2 separate regions of the Homo sapiens genome follow, and region 2 is linked to region 1. The links come from fine-mapping of genetic effects on gene expression. A gene starts in region 1. The other region holds a variant in brackets. All regions are shown on one strand. Distances are from middle to middle.

Region 1 (5,366 bases):
TGCTGACTGATGAGGAAGACATCGGTGTTAACTGCAAGATGATAATAATAACAGCTGATATGTGCTGAGTGCTTACTATGTGTGAGGCACCGTGCTAAGCACTTTCATATGCATTTCTCACGTAACCCTTTCAATAACAACAGCACGAGATAGCTACTTGTATTTATCAACCCTGTTTTATAAATGAAGAGACTGAGGCCCAGAGAGGTTAAATCACTTGCCCAAGGTCATGCCTCTGGTAAGTGGCAGAGCTAGGAGACACATCTGGTCAGTGTGAAGTCAGAGCCCAGTCCTTAACACTGTGCTGATTGTGCTCAAAGACAGGTGGAGAGGTCAGCCACACCTCTGATGGGCCCCAGGAAAGGAATGCTTGCGTGGTGCCACTTTAGGGCCTGCAGAGAGTCGGCAGGCTGGGTGAGGACCCAGAACCTGCCCTTCCTACCTGGGTGGCTCCAAACAGGCAGTCTAATTTGTGTCCCTGTCCAGCTCAGAAAGGTCAGTTTTCCACCTGGGTCTTTCAGTGTGTCTGTATAAAACATGCAAATCTATGAGGGTGAGATATTTGGTTTGGGCTTTCACAAATGTAGCTATGTAGCTATACACTTCCTTTTTCCTTTGAATAAAGTGAGCTCTTGTACTCACTATTCCCTCTCCCTGGAATGCTTCACCCACATTTCTGGTTGCCCCTGTCCCTCCCATCATCTGGGTTTGTGCTCCATGTCACAGGATCAGACCAGCCTCCTTGCCTGTCCTGGGGCAGCAGCCTGCTATCTGCCCCCCATCACTTCATCCTCTCACTTTGCTTTTTACTTATTTTTTATTCTTGTGGGAACATAGTAGGTGTATATATTTATGGGTTACATGAGATATTTTAATACAGGCATGCAATGCATAATAATCAAATCAGGGTAAGTAAGGTATCCATCACCTCAAGCATTTATCCTTTGTGTTACAAACAATCCTATTATACTTTTTTTTTTCTTTTTAGACAGAGTTTTGCTCTTGTTGCCCAGGCTGGAGTGCAATGGCGCAACCTCGGCTCACTGCAACCTCCACCTCCGGGGTTCAAGAGATTCTCTTGCTTCAGCCTCCCGAGTAGCTGGGATTACAGGCATGCACCACCACGCCCAGCTAATTTTGTATTTTTAGTAGAGACAGGGTTTCTTCATGTTGGTCAGGCTGGTCTCGAACTCCCGACCTCAGGTGATCCACCCACCTCGGCCTCCCAAACTGCTGGGATTACAGGCGTGAACCACCGCGTCTGTATTATACTCTTTTGGTTATTTTTAAACGTACAATTATATTATTTTTGACTGTAGTCACCCTGTTGTGCTAGCAAATACTTGGTCTTATTCATTCTTTCTCTTTGCTTTATTACAAAGCAATAGATTTGCCTTCTCAGGTTGTGAGTGTTCAAATAAGTTAGTCTATAAAGCACTGATAAATACTAGGTGCTATTTTAAGCGGTAATCATTTACATGTCATCACGGCATTTATACAACATAGCACACATTACTTTTATCTGCTTTCTTGTGTGTCACCTCCCTGCCTTACTAGAATATAACCTCCACGAGGGCAGGAGAATGATTGGTTTGTTCACTGCTGTATCCGCCAGGGCCTGGCATACAGAACCGTACCCGGCATTCAGAAGGCGCTCAATAAATATATGTTGAATTCAATAAATGAACTGAGGTCTGGAGAGGCAGGAAACGCTTTGGCTTTCATGAATTCTGCAAATATTTACTGAGCACCCACTCAGCACCAGGCAATAGGCTGTCTCATTTTTACAATATTAGCTTGAGACTCTGGCAGGAGGGAGATTTAAATATCAAGTTTTTAGAATAAGATACACAGTGTGAAATGCAGTTTTAAGCGGACACTCCGCTGGGTTTTGAGAGATGCACACTCCCATGTACCTACACTGCCATAAAGAAATAGACCATTGCTTCATCCGGCAGGGCGAGGACTTGGAGCCCAGGTGGCACGAAGGCAACTGACCCGCGGGGTGCTGGTCGCAGGACCCTGCCTCCGGGGGCTGAGGGGGCAACGGCCGGCGGGCGGGCGGGGGCGAGACTACAAGTCCCAGGGTGCTTTGCGCGCCCGCGGGCCGTGCGGAGCGAAGGGGCGGTGCGGAGGGGGTAGGGGGCGCAGCGGCCGCGGCGCGGAGGCGCAGGGCGCGGGCGCCTACGGTTGGCGCGCGGTAGCGATGCCGGGGGCCGGAGCCCGGGCGGAGGAGGGCGGCGGCGGCGGCGAGGGCGCGGCGCAGGGGGCGGCCGCGGAGCCCGGGGCGGGTCCGGCGCGGGAGCCAGCGCGGCTGTGTGGCTATCTGCAGAAGCTGTCGGGCAAGGGCCCCCTGCGTGGCTACCGCAGCCGCTGGTTCGTGTTCGACGCGCGCCGCTGCTACCTTTACTATTTCAAGAGTCCGCAGGACGCGCTGCCCCTCGGCCACTTGGACATCGCGGACGCCTGCTTCAGCTACCAGGGCCCCGACGAGGCGGCGGAGCCGGGCACGGAGCCGCCCGCGCACTTCCAGGTGCACAGCGCGGGAGCCGTCACGGTGCTCAAGGTGGGACCGCTCGCCCCAAAGCCGCCCGCGCGCTTCCGCCGGCGTCCCCTGCCTCCGCCACTGGCTTGCGCCATCCACCCTCCTTCCTCCAAGGCCTCCTCGCCCCTGCCCACGTCGGCCTGCCTTTCCCTGCTTCTCCACATCCCGCCCTCGTTCCTATCTCCTCCCCACTATCTGGGCTTAGGCCAGTCTCGCTGGGGCTACCAAGCCCCGTCTCCTTTCTCAGACACCTTGACCCATTATCTCCCTCTGCGCCTAACCTCGGGCCAGTCTCTGGTGTCTCCCGACCCCCACCATCCCGTGGATGTCCTGTGCAGCCTTCCCAGGCATCCGTGAGCGTAGGCTTCTACCCCTGGGGCCTCCTTTAGAACTTTGCCTATGGCCTTGGTACCTCAGTGAACCGCTCTGGGCTGCAGCGGCCTCCTCTGTAAAATGGGATAACAGTAGTATCTACCTCATGGGGTGTTGGGATTAAATGAATTATACTTTAAACTGCTCAGTAAATGTCAGTGCTTTTATTTATTTGTTTATTTATTCTTTTTGAGACAGGATCTTGTTCTGTTGTCCAGGCTGGAGTGCAGGGGTGCGATCTCGGCTCACTGCAGCCTCCATGCCTGGGCTCAAGAGATCCTCCCACCTCAGCCTCCCAAGTAGCTGGGACCACAGGTGCGGGCCACCACGCCTGGCTAATTAAATTTTTTTTTTTTTTTAAAGAAACGGGGGTCTCACTATGTTGCCCAGGCTAGTCTCGAACTCCTGGGCCGAAACCATCCTCCCCATCCAGCTTCCCAAAGTGCTGGGATGCCAGGCGTGAGCCAGAGTGCATTTAGCACTGTAGACAGAAAGAGTCAGATGGCAGGGCCCTTAGAGACAGTCCACTACATTTTCCTCCAGAGTGGACGGGGATGCTCCAGCTAAGGTCACACAGCCAGTAGGTGGCAGATCCTGTGTTCTTCCTCCTTGCTTTGTCCAGGATGGGTGGGAGGGGGTCTTTTCAGCCAGTTATGCCTTGCTCCTTTGAGGCTCCCTTAATCCTCCAGTGGACAGACAAAATGAGAGATACAGTGTAGAAGCAGGAGAGTAGAGTCAGGAGTCCTGGTGCTGAAAGGCCTCCCCTGTCCTTGGGAGTTCTGGGGGACTAGACTGTCACCTCCTAGGGGCCCACCTGCTTTGAGCATCTGGAGGGATCTGGGCCCAGGCCTGGAGCTGGGTATCCTTTTTCCAGGCTTTGCTCCCTGCCTGGTTTCTGTGAGTCTCCACCCTCACTCTCACTCCTCTTCCGTATTCCAGGTTGGGCTTTCTCCAGAGCAACAGGGTTGGGCTGGGATGTATGAAAGTGCTCTCAAAGCTGGCCACACGGAGAGCAGACTAGGCAAACTCCTGGCCTTGTGAGCTGAGGACTGTTCCTCAGACCCCCAGAGCTGCTAACAGCTGGAGCTGCTCCCTGGAGATGTTCTTAGAGCTTTGCTGACTCAGCTTTTGCCAGTTCAAGCAGGATCTGATTCCCATGTTCTCTTGGGCTCCCCTGTCCTGTCTGTAAGTGGGTGCAGACAGCCTGTTTCCCCAAAGAAAACCAACTCGGGTTGCAGTCCTACACAGGCTTACTTAGAGAGTGCCTGTATAAACTTGGTAATGACCCTAGTGGGAGACCTTTGCCAAAGGCAGAGGCTCTTCCTCAGTGTACATACGGGCTGTCCCTGTGTCGGACGAATTTCCTGTGGGATGTTTGTTAAAGAAAATAGAGCATCGTGTTTCACATTTTTCCCAGATGACTGTAGAACTCTATCAGTTTTTTTCATTAAAATAATCTGAATCTCCTGTAATCCCAGCACTTTGGGAGGCCGAGACGGGTGGATCACGAGGTCAGGAGCTCGAGACCATCCTGGCTAACACGGTGACACCCCATGTCTATTAAATATACAAAAAATTAGCCAGGCATGGTGGCGGGTGCCTGTAGTCCCAGTTATTCGGGAGGCTGAGGCAGGAGAATGGCGTGAACCCGGGAGGAAGAGCTTGCAGTGAGCAGAGATCGCGCCACTGCACTCAGCCTGGGTGACAGAGTGAGACTCCATCTCAAAAAAAATTAAAAAAAAAATAATAAATAAGAATCTACATAAGCAGGGTTACAAGGCGCATTGTCAGAAGTGTGGCTTTAAACTTCGATGGACTTGAACTTGAAGCAGGAGTCTGCTGCTCACACATATTGGACAAATTACACCAGTTCCCTGCTCCAGTTTCCTCTTTGGTCTAGTGGGAATCATACCTTCCTCATTAGGTGGCTGTGAGGATTCTGGAGAATGTTATGGAAAATGGCTGGCGCATTTTCCATAGTGGTATGGAAAATAGTAGGCACTACATGGCATATGAAACATCAAGCAGTGTCTTTGGCCAAATATGTAGTGTATTCATATAGTGGAATATTATGCAGTAGTAAACAAAGGTACTAGAGCTATAGGTGTCAACGTGGATTACTCTCACAAACAATAAAATTGAACAAGAAGTAAGTTACACACTGATTGTGTTCAGAATGATACCACTTATAGAAAGGTTAGGAAGATCATGTGAAACAGTACTACAGATCATAAGGATGTATGCTCTTTCGCGAGGGGAAGAGCTTTATGGGGCTGATGAGCTCTGGTTTCCAGGTAGTGGTTGCCTGTGATGGGAAGAGGGAGGATGTGATTGGGAATGGGTGCCTCAGGGCTTCTCCTGTTTTGCAGTGTTTTATTTCTTGGACTGGGTCATAGGTATATCAGTGTTTGTCCTATTATGCTATCCATCTTTTTGTAGGTTCAGAATA
Region 2 (5,366 bases), 91 kb after region 1:
GCATCCCCTCCCCCGATCTGAACCCCCAGGCCTCACCTCCCTCCAGGAAGATGTGTAACAGCTGAGGCAGGGCTGGGCCCCGCAGGGCCGGTGTGCAGGCGGTTTGGCAGGCCCGGGCTGACAATGGAAGGGCTGCAGTGTCCAGAGGTCCCGTGTATCCACACACTGCACGTCCTGCACTGAGGAACCTCCACCGCAGCTGCGCGAGCACTGGGGACCAAGACACCCACGTGCAGGCCCACGGGTGTGACCCTGTGAGGCATGTGGCGGGAAAGGCATCAGACCCACGCCCCAGCCCGGGGAAATATCTGAAGAACCCCAGCGAGAGGCCAAGGCTGGCAGGCCCCAGGCAAAAGGTGGCATGGCCAGAGACTGCCATGGGCTGGGACAGACAGAGAAAGGGAAGAACAAAGGCAAGCTAGTGAAAGACAAGTCCAGATGGGGTCAAAGATACAGAGAAAAGGAGACAGGCCAAGCCAGACAAAGATGAGAAGACTCCCAAGAGATTCAGAATCCAGTGAGATCGGGCACACAGACGTGCAGCCTGGAGCCCTCCCCTTCCCTGCCGCTCTCGGAACACAGGCCGTGGGGAACCAGGGCTCCACCCCATGCCCTGGGAATGCCTGTCCTGGCTCCATCCTCACGCACCTTACTCCAGTTGCCTGAGTGCCAGGTGGCACAGGGCTGCAGGTGGCAGTGGCGGGCAGGCTGGGGCCGGCCAGCGGGGGTACAGTCCTCATCCCGGCCAGAGCTACAGCGCACCGGCCTCCAGACCACACCCAGGCCGCAGGTGGTAGAGCACTGCGGGGAACAGACCCGTGAAAGCCAGGCAGATCCCATCCCCACCAGGCCTCCACAGCCAGGAAACTACCCACCTAGGCTAGCGAGACCTCAGCAAGACAGGAGACCTCAGCAGGACAGGGGCCCTCTTCTGGGCCTCAGTTTCCTTATTTGCAAAATAGGCTCCTCCACCCACCTCCCAGGAAGACTGTGAGGATGAGAAGTCAAATCCCCCCAGCAACCAACCATCCCTGCTCACATGGGACAAAGGGCCTGTGTTCCAGCGTCATTGGTGCAGAGGTGGGGGGAGGGGACCCTGTGGGCACCCCTGACCAGCTATCCTGACCATCCTCATGGCTTCCCAGAGGCACCAGGGAAGGAAGGCTGGGTCCTGGTGCCAGCAGCCAAATCGCTGAGTAAAGCTTCAGCCTACCCCATCCCACCTCCAAATTAGGGATCTGAACAGAAGCTTCTTCTCCTGCAGTGACCATCTGGGGACCCAGGGAGGGGCACTAGCCAGCTTCTTTCTTGCAGCTCAGACCCCTGCAGGTCACTGCTAGAGGAGGGCGGAGCCAGGTGGCAGTGGGCTGAGCCCAGCCTGGAGGAGCCAGGCAGAACCTCAGGGAAGCTGCGGGGCCGGCGGCCACGCGGGGACCCTCCCCACTGCACAGCTGTCTGAGCCAGCTCCATCCTGGGGCGTGCTGTGCTGCCAGAGTGTGCCTGCCCCTGCCTTCCCTGAGGCCCGCTGTGCTGCCCAGGAATGGGCCCCGGGGTCCCCTCACCCCCCTAAATCCTGGGAACCCCTTCCCCGAGGGAGGCGAGACAGACGGCCCGTGTCCCACTCTGCTCATTTTCAGTGAAGAAACAGTCACCAAGGTCCCCCGCAAACTCCCTGCCCGCCCAGCCCACACCACTTGCCTCGCTCCAGTTTCCCGCTTGCCAGCTGGCGTTCCTGACAACCAACGGGTCCGCGGGGGGCCCCGCTTCAGCCAGGCTGGGAGGCAGTGGCTGGGTCTCAGGGGCTCTGTGGCTGTTGGCGGGGCTGTCCCAAGCTGGTGTGGACAGCAGCCTAGAGCTCAGGGGCACCTCAGGGCTGAGGGACTCAGGCTGACCCTTGGGTCCTGGGTTCAGGGCAGGCTCAGGCATGTGCCCGAGGCCAGTCAGGGTTGTGGGGAGGAAGGTCCCCCACACTGCCACAGTCTGCAGGTCCCATGAGCCTGGTCCTGGGGTTGGGAAGGAGGGAGTCCCCGGCTCCAGGGAACTGTCCCTGACCTTCATCTCTGGCAGAGGGGCTATGGGAGGAGGAAGGAGAGAAGCCACCCCAACAGTGGGCCACAGTTCACTGTCCACAGGCCCCAGACCACCCTCCAGAGCTGGCTCCCAGGCCACTATCCCTCCTGTCCACAGCTCCGCCGCGTCGGGACTAGGAGAGGAGTGGGTGCTGCCGACAGGACAAAGGGGGCAGCGTGGGGCTGGGTCTCGGGGGCAGGTGGGGTGCTCCACGGCCCTCGGGTTCATCATCCTTGAAAACCTCATTGGTCCTGCCCCGCCATGGAGGGGGCAGCTGGCTCTGGCTGTCCTTGCTAACTGGGAAATCATTTTGGCTATCAGGGGCAGCAAGTGTCTGCAGGCCATCGGTAGAAACCCTGGGCCAGGGCAGGCTGGAGAGCCCAAGATCTGGGGCCCCTATGGGGGCATCTTCCTCAGGCAGGAAATTGATCAAAGGGTTCCCAGGGGTCTGCTCTGAGGGCGGGGATGGGAAGCAGCCGGCCTGGCTGGGCCAAGGGCTAAGGGACCAAGGTCCCGGTGCCCCCTCCTCCTTGGCTGCAGGAGGCTCTGTGGCAGGCACGGGGCTACCCGTGGAGGGTGCAGGATGGCTGTGTGGTGGGGGTGTCCGGTCCCC[T/C]GTCCCCACCAGGTCTAGATCGGGTTCCTCAGAGGGCCCATAGGACAGATCCTCGTGGAAGTTGATGCAATTGTAGTCATAGTAGAAGTCGTCCACCAACATGGGCCCCGGCAGGTCCAGCTCTGGAGCCTCCTCCTCAATGGCGTTGCCCATGGTGCCTGGCTTGGGTGATGAGGCAGGTGAAGGGCGTGGGGCCAGGTGGCGCGGGATGAAGTCAGCCTCATTGAAGAGCTCGTGGCTGGAGGAGCCGCTGCCTGAGCCTTCAGGGCCCAGTGTGCCCAGGGGCCATTAACAGAGTGGCAGAGAGCAGGTGACTTTGCTAGCTGGCTGCTGGGCCTCGTCACAGGGGACACCGATGTCATTGGTGCAGAGGACATTTCGGCGCTGAGTGCCCTCCCCACATGTCACTGAGCACTGCAGGGGAAGCCAGGGTGAGGGGGCTTAGGAGTGGCAGAGACCCCAGCCAGCCCTCTCTGGCCCTGCCCAGCTCAAGGCCATGACTATGGCCATGCTTGCCAGGGGCTTCCTGATCCCTGAGGCTTTAGTCAGGGGCTGGACCCTGGAATGCCCAGACTCCCTCCCACCCACGAGGGCTCCAGGAAGGCTGTCTGCCTCCCGATAGCCGAAGACCAAGGGTGGAGCTGGAGGTGGGCCCTCTCCCATCCCACGCTCAACTGAAACCAGTTCCCCACAGCCCAGGTAGCCAGACAGGGCACATGGCAGTTGCAAGGGGTTTCAGTAGGGGGCCAGGGAAGTGTTCACAGGCGGGTGGCCCCAAGGCACTCTGCTCATCCAGCCCCATGCTGCGGATGCAGAGCATGGCCCGGCAGGAGAGGCCCCCAGGCCCCGCAGGAGCTGGAGCACGGCTGCCACTCACCTGCCCACCACCTGGCGGGGGCACATGGGTGGCATCAGCATGGCATCAGACGGGTGGCATCAGCAGGCTCTTCAGCAGGCTCACCAGCAGGGAATGGGCTTCCAGGCCTTCAGGGTTTGGGTAGAGCTGGGACTGAGGCCAGTGGTTGATTCTCCAGAGATCCAAGCCCAGGTAAGTTTCTTGACCTCAAAGCCTGGTGACATAGCACAGCCCCTCTGCTCCTGCCACCCTCCCCTCAGGGAAACTGAGCATGACCTGAGGCCTATTTCCACATCCAGGGATCCAAAGAAGAGGACCACAGGTGTCCAGGCTGGCCCAGGCTGGCCTAGGCTGGGGTGAGGGGTGACCTGGGGTGAGGGGTGACCTGGGGTTAGGGCTTCAGCCTTGGGAAGAGAATGAAAGCCCAGCTCCCTCTGCTCCCCCCCGGGGTCTCCAGGGACCCAGATGTAGGGGCCTGTGGCAGACCCAGGACACCTGGGGGTGGGGAGTTGGCAGGCGATGGGGGTGGGCTCACCTGGCAGGGCAGGGCTGCTCGCTGCACTTCCTCTGGCGGTCATCAGGCCGGCCCAGGGGATGACAGTGCTCCTCGTCCACAGGTCCTGCCTGCCGCTCTGAGCAGTACACACTCTGCCTCTGCACACCTAGGGGCCATGGGGCTCAGCCTGGGACTGGCACCCAGGTGCCCACCGCCCAAGACCCAAAGACACTCTCTCTGCCAGAACAGCACCTTACTGCCTGTGTCAGGATGAAGGCAGACCTCCACCGTCACCTCCTCGCTGTCCTCCTGGTTCTCATACACCCCCTTTTCTCCTATGTAGCCTCCCCTCTGGCTGTGCCTGGAGGGGTGGCAGAGTGTGGAGTTTTAGTGGGTTGGGTGCCCAGACCCTCTGCTTCCTAGCTGAAACCATGGGCAGCTCATTTGGCCTCTCTGAACCTCAGTGTCCTCCTCTGTGAAGTGGGAGCAACAATCCTGCCTCCTCCAAGCCCTGGAGGGAGGACTGCATGTGTTCTTGCATGTGTAGGCTCGGCCCTTGCCCGGCACATCCTAAGAGCTCGATCCATGCCAGCTGCTGCTAGCATGCAAACCCAGCCGTGGCGTCAAGGCCGTCCCACCATCCACACCCTTCCCAATGGCTCAGAGAACGTCTGGACAAGAAATGGGGCATGAAGGGACAGCCCCTGCTCCCCACCCCCACACCAGCCTTGGCACTGCTCCTGTCCTTCACACCCTCTGCCACCGCCCACCCTGGGGACTTTGCACAGCCACGCTCCTCACCTTGGACACTCACTTCCATACTGCCTGTTGAAGCCCAGCTGCAGGACCCCCTCTGCTGGTGGCTCTGCCTTCTCTGCTCCACCCCCTGCCCCGTGGTCCCGAGAGTAAGTTGTCCCTCCCCCGAGCTGCCAGTCCCACACTCATTCCCCTCTTTCCTCACCAACAGATTCCAATTTTGCTCAAGGCAGCAATGGGACCTGCTGAAAACACACCCCACTGACGCTCCCTTGCAACTAGGGGGGTCTGGGACAGTCCTGGCTTGGGAGAAAAAGGCACAAGTCCCTTGCTGGGATTCAGCCCTTTCCCCTCTCCTTCTTCCTGCCCAGAACACTGCAAGAGCCCTGGAAGGGAGGACACCATCTGTGGCAAGCAGGAGTGAAGGGGAGGCTGCTGTGGCAAGGACGATGTGGCTGAGGTCCAGTCAGTTCCAGGTCCCGCCAGCTTGGACTGTGCACCTGGAACTTCCTGCCTGAGACAAAGAACCCCTGTCTGTTCCAGCCACCACAGGGCACTTGCCTCTGCAGAGGCTC

Direction of the effects. Alleles are on the strand shown, and positions count from the first base shown. SD is a standard deviation of normalised expression in the study named.
With allele C in place of T in region 2, the expression in lymphoblastoid cells of the gene that starts at base 2,148 in region 1 is lower (moderate effect, 0.49 SD a copy in GEUVADIS).

Evidence for each region. PIP is the estimated chance that this variant, and not a neighbour inherited with it, causes the effect.
Region 2: its variant is the best candidate, but not a certain one, in a credible set for the expression of TBC1D2B in lymphoblastoid cells (GEUVADIS, PIP 0.68).

What each region holds. Positions count from the first base shown.
Region 1 is chr15:78,074,493-78,079,858 of GRCh38, reverse strand. TBC1D2B (TBC1 domain family member 2B) reads left to right here and starts at 2,148. Exons shown (of 13, transcript NM_144572.2): 1 at 2,148-2,566. The coding sequence starts at 2,207. RefSeq lists silencers at 1,863-1,912, 2,063-2,272, 2,473-2,672.
Region 2 is chr15:77,983,307-77,988,672 of GRCh38, reverse strand. It overlaps the pseudogene ADAMTS7P3. Among named protein-coding and RNA genes, the nearest start is that of TBC1D2B, 92 kb to the left of the region's middle. The variant T/C (reference allele first, on the strand shown) is at 2,684.